Regions from separate parts of the Homo sapiens genome. Here region 1 is reported to be linked to region 2. The links are microRNA targets in miRTarBase. Many come from high-throughput screens and were not tested one by one. Region 2 holds a microRNA gene; the other region holds the end of a gene's coding sequence.
Evidence for each region. The annotated mature microRNA hsa-miR-1247-5p reads ACCCGUCCCGUUCGUCCCCGGA and lies in region 2 at 1,641-1,662, opposite strand. An mRNA with a match to its seed (bases 2 to 7 or 8) in the 3' UTR can be bound and repressed. Matches are read on the target gene's strand: a 7mer-m8 pairs with bases 2 to 8, a 7mer-A1 pairs with bases 2 to 7 and ends in A, and an 8mer does both.

Region 1: the mRNA of ALDH16A1 is a reported target of hsa-miR-1247-5p. The part of its 3' UTR that is shown has no 7-base or 8-base seed match.

The regions. Positions count from the first base shown.
Region 1 is chr19:49,469,871-49,473,983 of GRCh38, forward strand. It overlaps ALDH16A1 (aldehyde dehydrogenase 16 family member A1), which reads left to right. Exons shown (of 17, transcript NM_153329.4): 17 at 436-1,180. The coding sequence ends at 597. Among named protein-coding and RNA genes, the nearest start is that of FLT3LG, 2.3 kb to the right of the region's middle.
Region 2 is chr14:101,558,722-101,562,993 of GRCh38, forward strand. MIR1247 (microRNA 1247) reads right to left here and starts at 1,701; the gene lies at 1,566-1,701. DIO3 (iodothyronine deiodinase 3) reads left to right here and starts at 2,774. Exons shown (of 1, transcript NM_001362.4): 1 at 2,774-4,272. The coding sequence starts at 2,776. The coding sequence ends at 3,690. DIO3OS (DIO3 opposite strand upstream RNA) reads right to left here and starts at 1,701. Exons shown (of 2, transcript NR_152588.1): 1 at 1,531-1,701.

The sequences.
Region 1 (4,113 bases), not on the chromosome of region 2:
GTGCCCAACCAATTTTTACTTTTTAAATGGAGACGGGGTCTCGCCATATTGTCCAGGCTGGTCTCAAACTCCTGAACTCAAGCGATCCTCCCGCCTCAGCCACCCCAAGTGCTGGGATTACAGGAGCGAGTCACCGCGCCCCACCGTCCACTCTCTTAAACCTCCTGTTGGTAACAGATGTGAACTTGTTGACAAGAGCCTTGGGGCCCATTCCTTTCAACATGGGCTGTTAAGGGAGAGGAAATTCCCTAACCACTGGGTCCAGTGCTTTTCCCTACCATCTGGAAGTTCTGCTTGGGAGGAGCTGGGCATTGTAGCTGCAGAGCCTGGGTCCAGCCTGAAGCCCCTCGTCAGTAACAGTCTTCATCGCGGAGGAAGCAGGTGCTCAGCAACAAGCCTGCAGAAGTGCTTACCCCCGTCTCTTCCTCCCCTCAGGGTTCCCAGTTTGTCGAGTGGGCCTCGGCAGGAAACCTCAAACCGGTGTGGGCGAGCAGGGGCTGCCCGCGGGCCTGGGACCAGGAGGCCGAGGGGGCAGGCCCAGAGCTGGGGCTGCGAGTGGCGCGGACCAAGGCCCTGTGGCTGCCTATGGGGGACTGATGCCTGAGCGCCACCTACTGCATTTTGGACACCTCACACCAAGGGGAGATGCACCCCACAGACACCTGGGACTTTCCCCTTCTGGTTCCTGTGTCTCCCAATAAACTCTCTGACCAACCCTAGCTGTGCTTCTGCGAGAAGAAAGGGTGTAGCAACTTCTGGCAGATATGAGGCTTTTTTCTTTTTTTTTTTTTTTTTTGAGACAACGTCTGGCTCTGTCACCCAGGCTGGAGCGCAGTGGCACAATCTCGGCCCACTGCAGCCTCGACCTCTGGGGCTCAAGGGATCCTCATGCCTCAGCCTCATATGTAGCTGGGGCCACAGACATGCACCACCACACCTGGCTCGAGGCCATTTTAGTTCTGAGGTTGAGCAGCTCAGGAGCCGGCTCCAGCACGGTGCTGTGTTTGTGAAACAGAGAAAGGGGACCCCCGAGGACCCCAGACAGGGCCTTAGGACTCTCATATCTTCTTGTCTTCTCCATCTGGTGGCTCTTGCTCTCTGGTTTTCTCTACCTTTTCATGGCCCCAGAATCCATATGCAGTAAAGGAACTCTCTGGAATAAAATTAAAGTCCTCCTATATGACTTTTGTCAATTTCCATGATGTAAATGCTCCCACCGTGCCGGATTTCAAGGTACAGGTGATTAAACAACTGCCTGCGAGATCCTGAATTGTTAACAGGTCAGCTCCCATGAGCCAATACGAGCCGCTTCAGCACACCACTGCCTTAGGATTCTGGTTGTGGGTGGGTTTTTTTGGTTTGTTTTTTGTTTTTTCGAGACAGAGTCTCTCTGTCGGCCAGGCTGGAGTGCAGCGGGGTGATCTCGGCTCACTGCAACCTCCGCCTCCCAGGTTCGAGCGATTCTCCTGCCTCGGCCTCCAGAGTAGCTAGAATTACAGGCTCGCGCCACCACACCCAGATAATTTTTTGTATTTTTAGTACAGACGGGGTTTCACCATCTTGGCCTGGCTGGTTTCAAACTCCTGACCTCAAGCGGTCCGCCTGTCTTGGTCTCCCCAAAGTGCTAAGATTACAGACTTAAGCCACTGCGCACGACTGTTGATTTTTAAATAAAGGATCTTGCTCTGTTTTTTAGGCTGTAATACAGTGGCGCAGTCACAGCTTACTGAACCCACCCTCGACCTGGGCTCAATCCTCCCACCTCGGCCGGGCGTGGTGGCTCACGCCTATAATCCCAGCACTTTGGGAGGCCGAGGCAGGTGGATCATGAGGTCAGGAGATCAAGACCATCCTGGCTAACACGGTGAAACCCCGTCTCTACTAAAAATACAAAAAAATTAGCTGGGCATGGTGGCGGGCGCCTGTAGTCCCAGCTACTTGGGAGGCTGAGGCAGAAGAATGGCGTGAACCCGGGAGGTGGAGCTTGCAGTGAGCCGAGATCGAGCCACTGCACTCCAGCCTGGGCGAAAGAGTGAGACTCCGTCTCAAAAAAAAAAAAAAAAAATCCTCCCACCTCAGCCTCCTGAGCAGCTGGGACCACAGGCACGCACCACCATGCCTGGCTAATTTTTTTTTTTTTAATAGGCAGAGTCTACCTACGTTGCTCAGGCTGGTCTTGAACTCCTGGCCTCAAGCGATCCTCTCGCCTCAGCCTTTCAAAGTGTGGGACTGCAGGCATCAGCCACCACACCTGAAGTAGAATTCTTTTTGATGTAAGAAACCCACTCTTACTAGTTTAGGATAAAAGGGAGTTTTCAGAGGCCAGGCTCGGTGACTCAGGCCTGTAATCCCAACACTTTGGGAGGCCGAAGTAGGCGGATCACCTGAGGTCAGGAGTTTGAGAGCAGCCTGGCCAACACAGTGAAACCCTGTCTGTACTAAAAATACAAAAATTAGCTGGGTGTGGTGGCGGGCACCTGTAATCCCAATTACTCAGGAGGCTGAGGCAGAAGAATCACTCGAACCCAGGAGGCAGAGGTTGCAGTGAGCTGAGAGCACACACTTCACTCTAGTCTGGGCAACAGAGCAAGGCTCCATCTCAAAGAAAAAAAAAATGAGAGTTTTCCGGACTAGGTGTGGCAGTTCACACCTGTAATCCCAGCACTTTGGGAGGCCGAGGTGGGTGGATCACTTGTCAGAAGTTTGAGACCAGCCTGGGCACCATGGTGAAATCCCGTCTCTACTAAAATTATAAAAATTAGCCAGGCGTGGTGGCGGCACCTGAAATCCCAGCTATCTGGGAGGCAGGAGAATTGCTTGAACCTGGGAGGCAGAGGGGGAGCTTGCAGTGAGCCAAGATCGTGCCACTGCACTCCAGCCTGGGCAACACAGCGAGACTCGGTCTCAAAAAAAAAAGAGAGAGAGAGAGGAGTCTTCTGGAAGGCTACAGAGATTCCCTAGAGGCAATAGGGCGATAGGGCAGGACACACATTGAGGGGCCCCAGGACTTGGTCAGGAAGGAGCTAGAGCAGGTCCTTTGTCCATGGGCCACATGAGCTATTGGGGCTTGTATCTCTGCCTCTCTGCTTCATTTAAATCTTTCTAGCCAGATGGAAGGTCTGACCATTGGGTGCGACAAGGCAGCTAACCCAGGCTGAACAGGAAGTGAGGCAGGCAGAGGGATCAGGGAAGGGAAATGGATGATGAAGGCCAGGACGGGCGAGGCTTTGCTGCAGTAACACATAACCCCCGAATCTGCGTGGGCCACAACCACAACATTAGTTTGTTGCTTACACTCCCTGTGCTCATCCGGGGCTGGCAGGATCCCTGTGCTCCTCCGAGTGGCACAGGAAACTTGGCTGATAGAGGCGCTCTCTCCATGCATCCTCCACCATCCACTCCCCGGTCCCTTAGACTTCCATTCAGAAGTGACACCTGTCACCTCCACCCTCATGTGACTGGCCAAAGTGAGTGTGGCCATGTCCGAGTTCCCCAGGATGGGACCTCGAATCCTCCTGCTGGGGGGGTGGGGGCAGCAGATGTTTCAGGACAGTCTGCCACGGATCAGATGGGTGAGCAAGAGATTCAGGATGGGCGTGATGGGTCACACCTGTAATCCCAGCATTTTGGGAGGCCGAGGCAGGCTGATCACCTGAGGTCAGGAGTTCGAGATCAGCCTGGCCAACATAGTGAAACCTCGTCTCTACTAAAAATACAAAAATTAGCCGGGCATGGTGGCACGCACCTGCAATTCCAGCTACTTGGGAGCCTGAGGCACAAGAATTGCTTAAGCCCAGGAGGCGGAGGTTGCCGTGAGCCGAGACTGTGCCACTGCACTCCAGCCTGGGCAACAGAGTGAGACCCCATCTAAAAAAAAAAAATGCTTCAGAGATTCAGAGATCCACAGATGTGGAAGAGAGCTTCTATTTTGTCTCATGTACCACCTCACCCCTCAGTTTGGAGTTGGAGAAGCCGAGGCTTAGAGAGGTCAAGGGGCTGGCCAAGCTCCCACAGTGATAAAGCTAGTGCTAGGGCGACACCTGCCAGGCCCAATGTGACAAGATGCATCCTGAGTCCTGTGTGCCAAGCCTTGGCGGGGCAAAGTTGGGGCCC
Region 2 (4,272 bases):
AAGAAACAGCAACAGATCCCCAGAACAGATGACAGCCCTAAAGAAAGGCTGCTTTCCTGAGCATCCCTGGGGCTAGAAAGAGTGTGGATCAGGTGCTTCCTATTGGGCTGGGCCTGCAGAGGGGACAAGAGGGGCCAGTCTTACAGCCACCCAGACCATACTTTCCACACACATGCACATGCGCACACACACTTGCACACACACACACACACTTGCACACATATGCATGCACATGCCACCAGATCTCAGCCAGCACAGAAAGGCTCTCCCAGCCTTAGGTGGCTTATGCATTTTCTGAAACTAACTGTGGGAAAAGGGCTTGGGGAACCATCCCATGTGCCTGCACCAAATGCTGTGTGGGTGGGGCAGGACACAAGCCCTACACTGACACCTCCCAGAAATCAGGGAATCAGAGCTTGAGAGATTGTCCAGTAAAAGTTGGAACCCTCAACACCCCTTGACTCTGCCCAGGAGGAGCAACCTCAGAAGCCCCCCCAAACCTCCTCTCAGAGACCTGCCGAGTAGGAGGCTTCTCTCTCTACTCTCCTCCCCGCAAAAAAGAGGCCAGAAAAGAGGATGATTGGCTAACTCAGAGGTGCCCTGATGGAGGGGAGCAAACAAGGGGACTTCCAAGGAGAATTCCCTAGCCCACCTGAAAGACCCCTACCCAGAGTGGTGAGGGGCAGCTTAGGAGCACTGACGCAAGGGGGAGAGACCAGGCTGGCTTCCCTCTACGTAGTAAGTTCCTGGGGTGTGCGCCCCTGCCCCAGACAGCAGAGAAATCGCCTGACTGGGAGATGGAGAAGAGGGGCCACCTTCTCATGCCACCCCGCCGCCAATCCTCCAGGCACACTCGGGCGCTTGACCTGCTGAAGCCTGTAGCCTCAGGTCCAGTGAGGAGCTCACGGGACAGAGGGCCCTACCAGAGCCACGAAAACCGGAGGGGGGGACCTCCGCCCAAGGCAGGCGTCTCTGCGCGCCCGCTGGGGCCCTGGTCCTGCAGTTGGCTTCTCCCGACACGTTCCTTCGCTGCCGAAAGCGATTCGCCCGCGCTCTACCGAGCCCAGCCAGCTCCTACCTCGGCCCGGGCGGCGAGCGCTGTCTCCGTCCCGAGAAGAAGTTTCGCGGCTGGTCCCGGGGCGGCAGGCGCACGGGACGCTGGCGGCGGCGGCGGCTTCCGACTTGGGCTCAGACCCCGCCGCTCCAGACAAGTCCCCGCGACTGCGACAGTGTCTCGGGCAGTTCAGCTCCCCAGACGGGAGACAGACCCTCGCGACCTGGTTCAGGCCTTGCCCTGGGGGACACTGCAGTCCAAGGCGAAAGGAGACTTGCTCCCGGCCTCTGGGTCCCTAGGTCAAGGCACCTCCCCGCCCCGCCGCCCCTGAGCCCAAGTCGCCAACCCCGCGCCGCGCGCAGCGAGGGATCAGAAGGTCTCGGACGCCGCGGCAGGGCCGGCCAGGGCCCCACGAGTTAGGGAGTTGCCCCGCACCCCTAAACGCTCAGCACCCATTTACGGTTGAAAGTACGCACTTGACGCGTCCGGGCGCCTCCGCGGTGAGTCGCGCCGCCGCTCTCGGGGTCCGCGAAGGTGGCTCAGTTCGGGCGCTCCAGTCTCGACGTTCCCGGGGTAGAGAGCAACGTCCGGGGACGAACGGGACGGGTGCGCCCAGCGGCCGGGGCTGCGCTGGGCGAGGCAAGCGGCGAGAGGGGAGCGCTCCGGCGTTCAGGCAACAGCTACCCCTAGTGGGAGAGCCGCCCGGGGCCGGCGCCGCCCCGCGCCCGCTGCCCCGCGCCCCACGCCCGTGGCGCCCCGCGCCCGGGTCGGCTGGGGGCGCAGGGCCGGCGCCGCTTTCCCCAGCTCTCCGGTCTCCGGCGCCCGGCGGTAACCCGCCCGCGGGCTCTGCCCTCCGCACCTCTCAGCCCGGCCCCGGCGGCCGCTGACCCAGGAACCGCGGCGCCCCGCTGGAACGAGATGGGACGGGGCGGGCGCGGCCAGGGCGGCGCGGGCTGGGGCGGCGCGCGGCAGCCTCGGGCAGCGGCGGGGGGCGCGGAGCGCGGTGTGCGTGGCGGGGCGGTGCGGGGGGCGGCCGTGTGCGAGGCGCGAGTGTGAGCGCGCGCGGGAGGCGGGCGGGCGGGCTCCGGCAGGCGAGCGGCGCCCGCGGGCGAGCCAGGAAGGCGGCGGGAACGCAAAGTTGCCTCCTCGCTGGCCCGCGTCCTCGGTGGGGCGGGAGCCGGGGCCACCGAAGCGGCGGCCGCGGACCCGGCCTCCCGCGGCACCTGGGCAGCGGCCCCGCACGAGCGGCAGCGGCGTGGGCGGCGTTGGCGGCGGCGCGCGGGAAGCGAACCGGAGCTCCGGCGCGGCTCGGCGGCCGCCGGGGAGCTCGGCTCAGGTGCGCGGCGAGGGGGGCGCGGGCCGGAGCCAGGCGGCGGGGACCAGGGCGGCGCGCAGCGCTCGCGCCAGCTGGAGGACCTCCCCAGCGGACGCCCAGGTCCCTGGTCGGGCTCCCGGTCCCCAGCGGCAGCGGCTGCCGGAGTCCCCCGCCCCCGAGAGCTGGCTGCGGGGCCCGGGCCCGCCCCCACCGGCCCCAGGCCCGGCCGCTCCGCCCTCCGCCCGCCTGCGCCCGCCCTCAGCCCAAGATTTCTAGGGCATTGGCCGCGCTGCTGGGTGATCCCTCCGGGCTCAAGTTGCAAGGGGGCGGGCCGGGCCGGAGGTGGAGTCTCCCGCCAATTGAAGCCTCCGCTATAAATTGAACTCCCTGCACTGCTGAAGCCCAGATGCCTCGCCAGGCCACGTCGCGGTTGGTGGTCGGAGAGGGCGAGGGGTCCCAGGGGGCTTCGGGGCCTGCAGCCACCATGCTCCGCTCCCTGCTGCTTCACTCCTTGAGGCTCTGCGCCCAGACCGCCTCGTGCCTCGTGCTCTTCCCGCGCTTCCTCGGCACGGCCTTCATGCTCTGGCTTCTCGATTTCTTGTGTATCCGCAAGCATTTCCTGGGCCGCCGCCGCCGGGGGCAGCCCGAGCCCGAAGTGGAGCTCAACAGTGAAGGCGAGGAGGTGCCTCCCGATGACCCGCCCATCTGCGTGTCCGACGACAACCGCCTGTGCACCCTGGCGTCGCTCAAGGCGGTGTGGCATGGCCAGAAGTTGGATTTCTTCAAGCAGGCGCACGAGGGCGGTCCGGCGCCCAACTCCGAGGTGGTTCTGCCCGACGGCTTCCAGAGCCAGCACATCCTCGACTACGCGCAAGGGAACCGCCCGCTGGTTCTCAATTTCGGCAGCTGCACCTGACCACCGTTCATGGCGCGCATGAGCGCCTTCCAGCGCCTGGTCACTAAGTACCAGCGCGACGTCGACTTCCTCATCATCTACATCGAGGAAGCGCACCCCTCCGACGGCTGGGTCACCACGGACTCTCCCTACATCATCCCACAGCACCGGAGCCTGGAGGACCGGGTCAGCGCAGCGAGGGTACTGCAGCAAGGTGCACCCGGCTGCGCTCTGGTCCTCGACACCATGGCCAACTCCAGCAGCTCGGCCTATGGCGCCTACTTCGAGCGTCTCTATGTCATCCAGAGTGGCACTATTATGTACCAGGGCGGCCGTGGCCCCGACGGCTACCAGGTCTCTGAGCTGCGCACTTGGTTGGAACGCTATGATGAGCAACTGCACGGCGCTCGGCCCCGGAGGGTGTAAACATCCAACGGACAATTGACTGAACTTGGTGGGCTGGGCCTTCGAGCCTTCGAAGCCCACGTGCAAGCGCCTCAAACCAAGTCACGCTTGGCGAGGCCCCAGTGACACTGATGTGCTGAGCCACCATTTCAGACTGAGTCTGCACCCTCAGCCACATGAACAATCTCCCCTACCTCCCTGGGACTCTGCTTCTGTAACTGTCTCATTCACACCTGCCTGGCTCACTGGAAATCCTCTTTTGAGCGCGGGATATGGCTTGCCCTTGTCCGTGTGCCCCCAGGACTTTGCCTCTACAGCATTTTCTTACACCCCCTCCCCAGCGTGCCCTCAGCCAAGTGCTTTGGCCCGGTGCTTCCCGCAGCTGCACAGAGACCTTGGCCACGCCCGCGCGCCCTGAGCGCAGCTGGGTTCCAGGAGACTCTCAGCTCAGCTGAGCTAGTTGCCTGGCACCCACCTGTCGCGCGCGGAGAGGGGGTTCCCTGTTGCTTTTGTGTCTGTTTCCTGTCCCTGGTAGGGGAAGTGATGTCGTGGATGGGGAGGGGTGGGCAGGGTAGTTTCCCCCGCTTGTTTTGGGTGCACAGG